Linked DNA regions of Homo sapiens. The protein of the gene in region 3 interacts with the protein of the main gene of each other region in a pairwise test. Each region holds a gene or a part of one and is shown on either strand. Other genes may lie near its edges.

Region 1 (3,751 bases), on a different chromosome or scaffold from region 3:
CTCAGGGTCGTCCTCTGTGAACAAGGAAGTTGGCCTGATAACCTGCAGTGACCCTCCCACTCTGCCAGTCGGTGATTCTGTGAAGTGGTGTAAAGGGCTGTGAGCCTCAGGCATAAACAGACAGCAGGGAGAGACTTAGTATACTCCACTCTGCCAAGAGAAGATACACTGGCAAGCTGCAGTGGGATGAAAATCGGAAAACTGCCTGCCCCAAGAGCTGCCCCACAGCCTGATGTGCAGCTTAAGCAGAATTCTCTGAATTATCCTCATTACATTTATAATGAAAATGCCTATTAGGAAACTTACATGAGTCTGTGCTGTTTCCAAGGCATTTTTTTCCTATCTAAAAAATGTCCCTGTTTGTTGTTGTTGTTTTTGAGACAGGGTCTCACTCTGTTGCCCAGGCTGGAGTGCAGTGGTGCAATCTTGGCTCACTGTAACCTCTGCCTCCCGGGTTCAAGCCATTCTCCTGCCTCAGCCTGCTGAGTAGCTGGGATTACAAGCATGTGCCACCGCACCCAGCTATTTTTTATTTTTAGTAGAGATGGGGTTTCACCATGTTGGCCAGGCTGGTCTTGAACTCCTGACCTCAAGTGATCTGCCCGCCTTGACCTCCTAAAGTGCTGGGATTACAGGCATGTGCCACTGCACCCAGCCTCCTACATCACCTTCTGATTGGCCCAGACATGTAAGTTTGGCTCTGCTGTGCCTCACTGAACAGAGTCATCAAGCTGGAGGACCCTGATGGCTCAGTCGAACTTTCTGTAGCTGGGCCATGATACATTTTCTAGAGCTGGGAGAAGGATGGCATGTGGACAGGTGAGACTGGCCAGCAAGCCTCTCCTGTTGACCCCACAGGAAGTCCACACCTGAAGGGGACCTTTGTGGGGCTTCCAGAGGGGCAGATCCAGGATCTGGACACTGGTCACATGCCTTGGGTCCCAGGCTTTGTGCCTGAATTGCCACAGAGCCATCAGGATGCCAGGGGTTCTGTTGACCCTTGCTATGTGAGGGCAGTTGGGCCTCAGTGCCCAGGTGACCTGGTTGGATGAGGGCTAGAATACAGCAGGCCTTTGGTCTGGGAGAGGGCCAGTGGGGCAGTGGACTGGTCACAGTTTTGGTCACCAGTCCCAGGATCCAGGTGTCAGGGGCTCCCTCCAGTGGCCCTTTTATGACAACTAAAGGAAGTCCTATTGTTCACAGCGAGGGTTCTCAGCTTGAAGTTCCTTGTGCCTCTTTTAGGGAAGACACTCAGATGGTATATCGAGTATAAAATGACTTAGCGATTCTTCTCCTCAAAATGTGTCATTTATGATCCTTTTGTAGTTCATGAGTGTGATGATTGTGTGTTCATACGCTTGTGTGAGATGTGCCACCCTTGAACCTTGTTACGACATTGGCACATTACCCGTCTGATCTGAAAAAAAAAGTATCATTTATTTACTTACCTAAAATCTATGGAGTGCTTACTATGTGCCAAGTGCTTTTTAAAGCACTTGGAATACCTGACTGCATGAACAGAAACACAAATCTCTGAGCTTGCAGTCTGATGGGAATAGGGGAGATACATAATAATAATCACAATAAATAGGTAAGTTCTAAAGTTTCACTGTTTAATACGGTAACTGCTACTCAAATGTGGCTATTTAATTAAAATTAGAATTACTTCTTCAGGCACCCTAGCCACATTTCAAGTGTTCAGTAGCTGTATTTGTCTCATCATTACCATACCGGGCAGCACAAATATGGAACATTTCAATAATTGCAGAAAGTGCTATTGGACAGCACTAATCTAGAATATGTTAAAAGGCAAAATGTGCTATGAAAAAAAATTAGAGATTTTTAAAGCATGTTGCAGGGGTGGAGAAGGTATTACAATTTTTTTTTTTTTTGAGACAGTGACTCGCTCTATTGCTCAGGCTGGAGTGCAATGGTGCGGTCTCAGCTTACTGCAACCTCTGTCTCCCGGGTTCAAGCAATTCTCCTGCCTTAGCCTCTCTAGTAGTTGGGATTACAGGCGCATGCCACCATGCTTGGCCAATTTTTGTAATTTTTGTAGAGACAAGGTTTCACAAGGGTGGTCTCGAACTCCTGACCTCAGATGATCCACCTGCCTTGGCCTCCCTAAGTACTGGAATTGCAGGGATGAGCCACCGCACCTGGCTGGAATTACAATTTTAAAGAGTAATTGTGGTGCACCTAATTTAGAAGCTTTTGAACAAAGATTATCAGGAGGTAAGTGAATGAGTCTTGGAAATACTTAGGAGAAGAGAATTCCAGGGCAGCGGACAAGCAATGCAGAGGCAGAAGCATACCAATTTGTGGAAGTGTTTGGAGTGCACCAGAGAAGAGAAGCAGAAAAGAGGTAATGGGGGCAGATCTCAAAAGCCTCATAGATCACTGTGTTATTCTACAGAAATCTATGAGGACATAAATATATGAGTACAAAAATGTTCTTGCAGCATTGTTTGTAAGCAGCAAAAAATTAGAGGTGAGGCCAGGCACAGTGACTCACGCTTGTAATCCCTGCACTTTGGGAGGCTGAGGCGGGCAGATCACCTGAGGTCAAGAGTTCGAGACCAGCCTGGCCAACATGGTAAAACCCCATCTCTACTAAAAATACAAAAATTAGCCGGGCGTGGTGGCACATGCCTATAATCCCAGCTGCTCAGGAGGCTGAGGCAGGAGAATTACATGAACCCGGGAGGCAGAGGTTGCGGTGAGCCAAGATTGCGCCACTGTACTCCAGCCTGGGCGACAGAGCGAGACCCCATCTCAAAAAAAAAAAAAAATTAGAGGTGACATACATGATTATTATTGGGGAGTGGTGACATGTTCATGCAGTGGTTGGTGAGGATGAGGGTGAAAGGATGAGGTTATAACCATGCATAGAAAGCATCCTGGAGGCCAGGCACAGTGGCTCACATCTGTAATCCCAGCCCTTTGGGAGGCCGAGGCGAGAGGATTGCCTGAGCCCAGGAGTGTGATACCAGCATGGGCAACATAGTAGGACCCCTGTCTCTACAAAAATTAGCTGGGCATGGCAGTGTGTACCTGTAGCATGACCTACTCAGGAGGCTGAGGTGAGAGGATTGCTTGAGCCCAGGAGGTTGAGGCTTCAGTGAGCCATGATGGTGACACTGCACTCCAGCCTGGAGGACAGAGCAAGAGCCTTTCTCTAAAAAGAAAGCATTCTGGTGCTGGGTATGGTGGCTCATGCCTGTAATCCTAGCACTGTGAGAGGCTGAGGTGGGTGCATCACCTGAGGTCCGGAGTTCGAGACCAGCCTGGCCAACATGGTGAAAACCTGTCTCTACTAAAATTATAAAAATTAGCCAGGTGTGGTGGCGGTCACCTGTAATCCCAGCTACTCAGGAGGCTGAGCCAAGAGAATCACTTGAACCCGGGAGGCGGAGGTTGCAGTGAGCTGAGACCATGCCATTGCACTCCAGCCCGGGCGACAAGAGCAAAACTCTGTCTCAAAAAAAAAAGAAAGCATTCTGGAGTCTGTAGGCTGCACCAAAAGGGCCATTATCCTGGTAGACTGGAAGGAGCCTGGGGCCCCTGGGAGTTGGGGTTTGAGGTGGCTGTGTGGCTTGTGCTGTCTCTTCTACTGGCAGTAGCAAAGGCCAGGGGACTGTTCAGGTCCTCCCAGACCCTAAACTCACCCCAGTTAGGGAAGAGTCACCAGTCGGGAGGGAATCACCAGAAGCTGAAAGCATACCCTGTGGATCCAGGAATGGCCAGGATG
Region 2 (3,751 bases), on a different chromosome or scaffold from region 3:
TTACCAAGCCTTCTAGTAGGTAATTTTCTTTTTTAGCCAATAGTTCAGGCTGACCGTGTAACCATCCCTAGTTCTAGTTCTAGTTCTTTGAATGTCTTCCTTTTTTTTTTTTTTTTGAAACAGCGTCTTGCTGCTCTGTCACCCAGGCTGGAGTGCAGTGGCACAATCTCGGCTCACTGCAATCTCCGCCTCCCTGGCCCAAGCCATCCTCCCACCTCAGCCTCCCTAATAGCTGATACTACAAGTGTGCACTGCCACGCCCAGCTAATTTTTGTATTTTTTGTAGAGACGGGATTTCACCATATTACCCAGGTCTCGAATTCCTGATCCCTTTGATGAGAGATCTGACACATCCCTGTGGTGCTCCCTCTGGGCCAGGCACTGCTCCAAGGGTTTCATATACTTTCATTCATCTGTGCAACAGCCCTGTAGGTAGGCCCTGCAGTCACACCATCTGACAGAGGAGGAAACAGGAGTAGAAGAACTGAGTGGTCCAGGGCTTCAAGGCTCAGAGGGCTCCGGTTGCCCCCAGCCCTCGTTCCGTCCCCTGCTCCACCCAGTGCTGCTTGCCATGTCGGCATCAGGCCTGATCTGAAAGCTTCCGGAGCATCTTACAGACGTCCACCTTGCCACCATTCAGGACTGATAAGTTCTCTTGGATTTGCGTTGGACCTTTTTTTTTTTTTTAAGATGGAGTTTCACTGTTGTTGCCCAGGCTAGAGTACAATGGCATGACCTCCACCTCCTGGGTTCAAGGGATTCTCCTGCCTCAGCCTCCCAAGTAGCTGGGATTACAGGCGCCTGTCACCACGTGGTGCCCAGCTAATTTTTATATTTTTAGTAGAGGCAGGGTTTCACCATGTTGGCCAGGCTGGTCTCGAACTCTTGACCTCAGGTGATCCCGCCTTGGTTTCCCAAAGTGCTGGGATTACAGGCATGAGCCACCACACCCGGCCCAGGATTTCTTTATATATTCTGGATATCATCCCTTATGAAGTATATAGTTTGCAGATATTTGCTCCCATTGTTTGGGTTGTCTTTTCACTTGATATAGTGTCCTTTGATGCACAAACATTTTAAATTTTGATGCAGTGCAATTTATTGTTTCTTTATTGCCTATGTTTTTGTCATCAGGTTTAAGAAACCACCTCATCCATAGTTATGAGGATTTTCACCTATGTTTTCTTCTAAGAGTTCTGTAGTTTTAGCTGTTAAATTTAGGTCTTTGATCCATTTTGAGTTAATTTTTGTATATGTTATTAGGTGAGGGTCCACTTTATTCTTTTGCATGTGGATTTCCAGTTTTCCCAGCACCATTTGTTTAAAAGACTGCTTTTTCTCCACTGAATGGTCTTGGCACTTTTGTCCAAAATCAATTGGCAATATATGTAAGGGTTTATTTCTGAGCTCTCTCTCCTGTTCCATTGGTGTATATGTGCCAGTACCACACTGTTCTGATTATTATAGCTTTGTGATAAGTTTTAAACTCAGGAAGTGGTAGTTATTCACCATTTGCTCCTCTTTTTCAAGTTTGTTTTGTTTCTGGATCCTTTGCAATTTCATATGAATTTTAGGATCGGCTTGTCCAATTCTGCATAAAAGACAGTTTGAATTTTGATATGGATTGCATAGAATGTGTAGATCTGTTTGGGGCACATTGTCATCTTTACAATATTAAGCCTTCTGGCTGGGTGTGGTGGCTGACGCCTGTAATCCCAGTACTTTGGGAGGCTGAGGCGGGCATATCACTTGAGGTCAGGAGTTCAAGACCAGCCTGGCCAACGTGGTGAAACCCCGTCTCTACTAAAAATAAAAAACAAATTAGTCGGAGGTGGTGCACACCTGTAATCCCAGCTACACGAGAGGGTGAGGCAGGAGAATCGCTTGAACCTGGGAGGAGGAGGTTGCAGTGAGCTGAGATCATGCCACTGCACTCCAGCCTGGGTAACAGAGGGAGACTCCATCTTAAACAACAACAATAACAGAAGAAAAAAACAGTATTAAGTCTTCCAATTCATGAATGAAGGATCTGTCCATTTATTTACGTCTTTAATTTCTTTCAACAGTATTTTGTACTGTTCAAGTCTTGCACATTCTTGGTTAAATAAGTATTATTTTTGATGCTTCTCTAAGGAATTGTTTTTCTTTTCCTTTTTTTTTTGAGACAGAGTCTTGCTCTGTCACCCAGGCTGGAGTGCAATGGCACAATCTTGGCTCACTGCAACCTCTGCCTCCCGGGTTCAAGCAATTCTTCTGCTCAGCCTCCCAAGTAGCTGGGATCACAGGTGCCTGCCACCACACCCAGCTAATTTTTTTTTTTGAGATGGAGTCTTGCTCTGTTGCCCAGGCTGGAGTGAAGTGGCCCAATCTTGGCTCACTGCAAGCTCCACCTCCCGGGTTCACACCATTCTTCTGCCTCAGCCTCCTGAGTCGCTGGGAATACAGGTGCCTGCCACCACGCCCAGCTAATTTTTTGTATTTTTAGTAGAGATGGGGTTTCACCATGTAGCCAGGATGGTCTCGAACTCTTGACCTCAGGTGATCTGCCTGCCTCGGCCTCCCAAAGTGCTGGGATTACAGATGTGAGCCACTGTGCCCGGCTGGAGTTGTTTTCCTTAGTTACATTTTCAGGCTGTTTGTTGCTAGTATATAGAAATACAAGCTGGGCACCGTGGCTCACGCCTGTAATCCCAGCACTTTGGGAGGCCAAGGCGGGTGGATCACCTGTGGTCAGGAGTTCGAGACCAGCCTGGCCAACATGGTGAAATCCAGCCTCTATTAAAAATACAAAAATTAGTCTGGCATGGTGGCAGGTGCCTGTAATCCCATCTACTCAGGAGGCTGAGGCAAGAGAATTGCTTGAACCTGGGAGGCGGAGGTTGCAGTGAGCTGAGATCGCGCCATTGCACTCCAGCTTGGGGAACAAGAGTGAGACTTCATCTCAAAAAAAAAAAAAAAGAAATACAGTGGATTTTTTTATGTTAATCCTGTATTGATTGCTGAATTGGTTTATTAGTGCTAATAGGATTTTTTATGCACTATTTAGGATTTTCGATATATACAATCATATATATTCAATATATACAATTAATATATATGTGAATAGAGATAATTGTAGTCTTTGTTTCTAGTTTGCATGGCATTTATTTCTTTTTCTTGCTTAACTGCCTTAGCTAGAACTTCAAGTACAATGTTGAATAAAAGTGACTAGAGCGGGCCGGGGGTGGTGGCTCACACCTGTGTTCCCAGCACTTTGGGAGGTGGAAGTGGGCAGATCACTTGAGATCAGCAGTTTGAGACCAGCCTGGCCAACACGGCGAAACCCCATCTCTACTAAAAATACAAAAATTAGCTGGGTGAGGTGATGTGCACCTGTAGTCCCAGCTACTTGAGAGGGTGAGACATGAGAATTGCTTGAACCTGGGGGGCGGAGGTTGCAGTGAGCCAAGATCATGCCACTCCACTCCAGCCTGGACGACAGAGCAAGAACCCTGTCTTTAAAAAAAAAAAAAAAAAAAGTGGCTAGAACAAACATCTTTATCTTGTTCCTGATCTTAGGTGGAAAACTTTTTTGTTCCTGATATTAGGTGGAAAACTTTTAGTCTTTCACTGTTGAATATGATGTTACTTGTAGGTTTTCTGTAGATTCCCTTTATCGAGTTGAGGAAATTCTCTTATATTCATAGTGTGTTGAGTGTTTTTTATCATGAAAGGGTGTTGATTTTTTTTTTAAAGATAGGGTCTTGTTCTG
Region 3 (3,751 bases):
TCTGTCAAGAGACGCTTTGATTAAATCACTGGAAAGTTCATAACAATTCTAATAACAGAAAGAATCCAATCCAAGCCCAATGGAAACAAGGAAAGAAAAAAATAAACTTAAAAAAAAAGAAATAAAAAGAATTCACAAGGAGTTGGTTAGCCCAAAAAGTAAGAGACGAAAGAAATTTTATTAAGACTAGATTGTCAATGTAATCCTAAGTATGGAACTTTAACTTCGGTATTTGATATATTTAGAAAGTTGGGTAAATTCAGACTGCTATGCTTTTTTTTTTTTTTTTGAGATAGAGTTTCGCTCTGTTGCCCAGGCTGGAGTGCAATGGCGCAATCTCCACTCACTGCAACCTCTGCCTCCTGGGTTCTCCTGAAGCGATTCTTCTGCCTCAGGCTCCTGAGTAGCTGGGATTACAGACATGCGCCAGCACTCCCAGCTAATTTTTGTATTTTTCGTAGAGACATGGTTTCACCATGTTGGTCAGGTTGGTCTTGAACTCCTGACCTCATGATCTGCCCGCCTCAGCCTCCCAAAGTGCTGGGATTACAGGCGTGAGCCACTGTGCCCGGCCTGTATTTGTATCTTAATAAGCTAAATACTCCTCTGAGTAAGTACACAGGAAAAAAAAAAACTATTTAAAGTGAAAATATGTGTCTCAGGGATTGAACTATTTAGAAAAGAGCTTTAAACATTTAAGAGTAATCTAACCACCCACAGATACAGGTTTGGAAAATCATGGGTTTTGACCCTTAGTATTCTTATTATTTTGATTGTCATTATATTTATTCAATATTATTTTGAATTAAAAAATTTAAATCCACGTTTTATGAAATGAATTTCTTCTTTTTTTGTTTTTTTGAGACAGAGTCTCACTCTATCGCCCAGGATGGAGTGCAGTGGTGTAATCTCAGCTCCCTGCAACCTCCGCCTCCCGGGTTCAAGTGATTCTCCTGCCTCAGCCTCCTGAATAGCTGGGATTACAGGCACACATCACAATGCTCGGCTAATTTTTTTGTACTTTTAGTGGAGACGGGGTTTTGCCATGTTGGCCAGGCTGGTCTCGAACTCCTGACCTCAGGTGATCTGCCCGCCTCAGCCTCCCAAACTGCTGGAATCACAGGCGTGAGCCACCACGCCTATCCTTACTAAATAAATTTCATTACAAAAATAGAACTTTTGAAAAAAATCACTTGCTTCAACTGCTTAGAGCACCTGAAACTAAGGGTGTTTTGACAGTAGACTGATTAATATAGCAGTTTGGAACCTGGATGAGGGGACTTATGCTCTTTTTGGGTACCTGGAAAGCTTTTGGATGTGACATCAGATCCTTGACCGTACTGATAGCCAACAGGAGTAGAGTCCATTTCAGCATCAATCTGTGCTTGTTCTTCAGACTGGGAAACATGGCTGGAAGAATCAGATGTTCGTACTTCTCGTTTGCTTGACTTATAATGAGTAACTTCAGAAGGCTGTGACAATCTCAAATGTTTGGTCTTTTTAATGGACTCTTTCCTTGGTTCATGCTTGGCCAAGGGTTGTTGAGTATTCTTCTGGGAGGCTGGATGATAATTATACTTATTCCAAGATTTTCCACTTATTATACCTGTTCCTTGCTCTGGGCTTAGGTGAGAACGTGGAGAACTGCTTCCTTCTTGCCAGCCACCACTATAAAAAGAGGAACGTTCTACACCATTAGAATTGGCATCTTTATCTGAGAGACTGAAATAGCGATCTTTTTCTTTCTCACTAATGTCTAAGGAAGATTTAATAAAAGTCTTACATACACTTATGACATCAGTCATCTGAAGGAAGCTAGCAGCCGACATCACTTCTATGACATTCTGACCAGTAAGAGACAGTTTGCCAGAATATACGAAGTCCAAGATAACTGTAAAAGTGTCAGGGGAGAAAGCCTGAAATGTAGCTGTGGTTGGCTGACTCGTCTCCTTTGAATTCTGAGAAAGAAGCATTTTAAAGTAGCCGCTACTAGCGAATAATACATTTCGATGTGCTTTGAAGACCTTCCCTTCAACTAGAATACTGCAGTCACAAAATACATCTTGCCTGCGCTGCTCGTTCAGTTGCTGCAGGAGGTGAGACTGATGAGAGGAGATCTCCATTCTGAAGAGGAAAAGACACATGTGGTTACCAAAACCTACATTACAATTATTTTATTTTGTTTTGAGACAGGATCTTGCTCTGTGGCCCAGGCTGCAGTGCAGTGGTGTGATCAAAGCTCACTGTGGCTGGGCACAGTGGCTCACTCCTGTAATCCCAGCACTTTGGGAGGCCAATGCGGGGGAGATCACCTGAGGTCAGGAGTTCGAGGCCAGCCTGGACAACATGGCGAAACCCTGTCTCTACCAAAAATACAAAAATTAGCTGGGCGTGGTGGCGGGTGCCTGTAATCCCAGCTACTCAGGAGGCTGAGGCAGACAAATCGCTTGAACCTGGGAGGTGGAGGTTGCAGTGAGCCAAGATCACACCACTGCACTCCAGCCTGGGCCACAGAGCAAGACTCTATCTCAAAAAACAAACACCCCAAAAACAAACAAACAAAAAAAGCTCACTGCAACCTTGAACTCCTGGTTTCAAGTGATCCTCCTACCTCAGCCTCCCAAGTAGCTGGGACTACAGGTGTGCACCACCATGCCTGTTTTTTTTTGTTTTTTTGTTTTTAATAGAGATAAGGTCTCACCACGTACCCGAGCTGGTCTCCAACTCCTGGGCTCAAGCAATCCTCCTGCCTCAGCCTCCCAAAATGAACAATCCTTTTCTAAGGTGAGTCAACTAAAATAATAATCAGAAGCCTCTTTTATTCCATTAAGAACACTTTCTTGTTGGAGAATATAATCGCCAAGACACAGAAGATAATAGGTTTCAACATATCACTTAATACTAGACTGTTATCAGCCAGGCGTGGTGGCTCACGCCTATAATCCCAGCACTTTGGGAGGCCAAGGCGGGCAGATCACAAGGTCAAGAGATGGAGACCATCCTGGCCAACATGGTGAAACCCCGTCTCTACTAAAAATACAAAAATTAGCTGGGCATGGTGGTGCGTGCCTGTAGTCCCAGCTGCTCGGGAGCTGAGGCAGGAGAATCGCTTGATCCTGGGAGGTAGAGGTTGCAGTGAGCCGAGGTTGCGCCATGCACTCCAGCCTGGCGACAGAGTGAGACCCTGTCTGAAAAAACAAACAAACAAACAAACAAAAAACAAAAAAACAACTAGACCGTTATTAGATTTTAGAAAATTACTTGTTTTATTAGCAAAATTTATTGAGCATCTTCTTTCATTTTTTAAATATAGAGATGAGGTCTATGTTGCCCAGGCTGGTCTTGAACTCCTAGGCTCAAGCGATCCTCTGGCCTCAGCCTCCCAAAATGCTAGGATTACAGGCATGAGCCACTGCATCCAGCCAAGCATCTTCAATAAATCAGGCCTTCTGCTATATGCTGAACCAACACATTTGATTTTTGCCTTCATGTTGTTTTCAGTCTAAAAGTGTTATCAGACATTAAACAAAGACTCCAGCCCAGGGTGGTAGCTCACGCCTATAATCCCAGCACTTTGGGAGTCAGAGGCAGGAGGACAGCTTGAGCCCAGGAGTGTGAGACCAGCCTGTTCAACATAGCAAGACCCTGTCTCTACAAAATATATATATATATTTTAATTAGCCAGGTGTGATGGAGAACACCTGTAGTCCTAGCTCCTTGGGAGGCTGAAGCAGGAGGATCACTTGAGCCC

Evidence for each region.
Region 1: the proteins of ZBTB8A (region 3) and KIF9 interact in binary tests that used the Homo sapiens proteins (3 or more experiments, as listed by UniProt).
Region 2: the proteins of ZBTB8A (region 3) and ZGPAT interact in binary tests that used the Homo sapiens proteins (3 or more experiments, as listed by UniProt).

What each region holds. Positions count from the first base shown.
Region 1 is NC_000003.12:47,248,190-47,251,940, reverse strand, and holds part of KIF9 (kinesin-like protein KIF9), read left to right. Parts: intron 1-1,314; exon of another isoform or gene 1,315-1,424; intron 1,425-3,751. UniProt on the Homo sapiens protein: Essential for normal male fertility and for progressive motility of spermatozoa.
Region 2 is NC_000020.11:63,710,929-63,714,679, forward strand, and holds part of ZGPAT (zinc finger CCCH-type with G patch domain-containing protein), read left to right. Parts: intron 1-3,751. UniProt on the Homo sapiens protein: Transcription repressor that specifically binds the 5'-GGAG[GA]A[GA]A-3' consensus sequence. Represses transcription by recruiting the chromatin multiprotein complex NuRD to target promoters.
Region 3 is NC_000001.11:32,591,304-32,595,054, reverse strand, and holds part of ZBTB8A (zinc finger and BTB domain-containing protein 8A), read right to left. Parts: intron 2,125-3,751; 5' UTR 2,124-2,124; coding exon 1,301-2,123; intron 2-1,300; coding exon 1-1. UniProt on the Homo sapiens protein: May be involved in transcriptional regulation.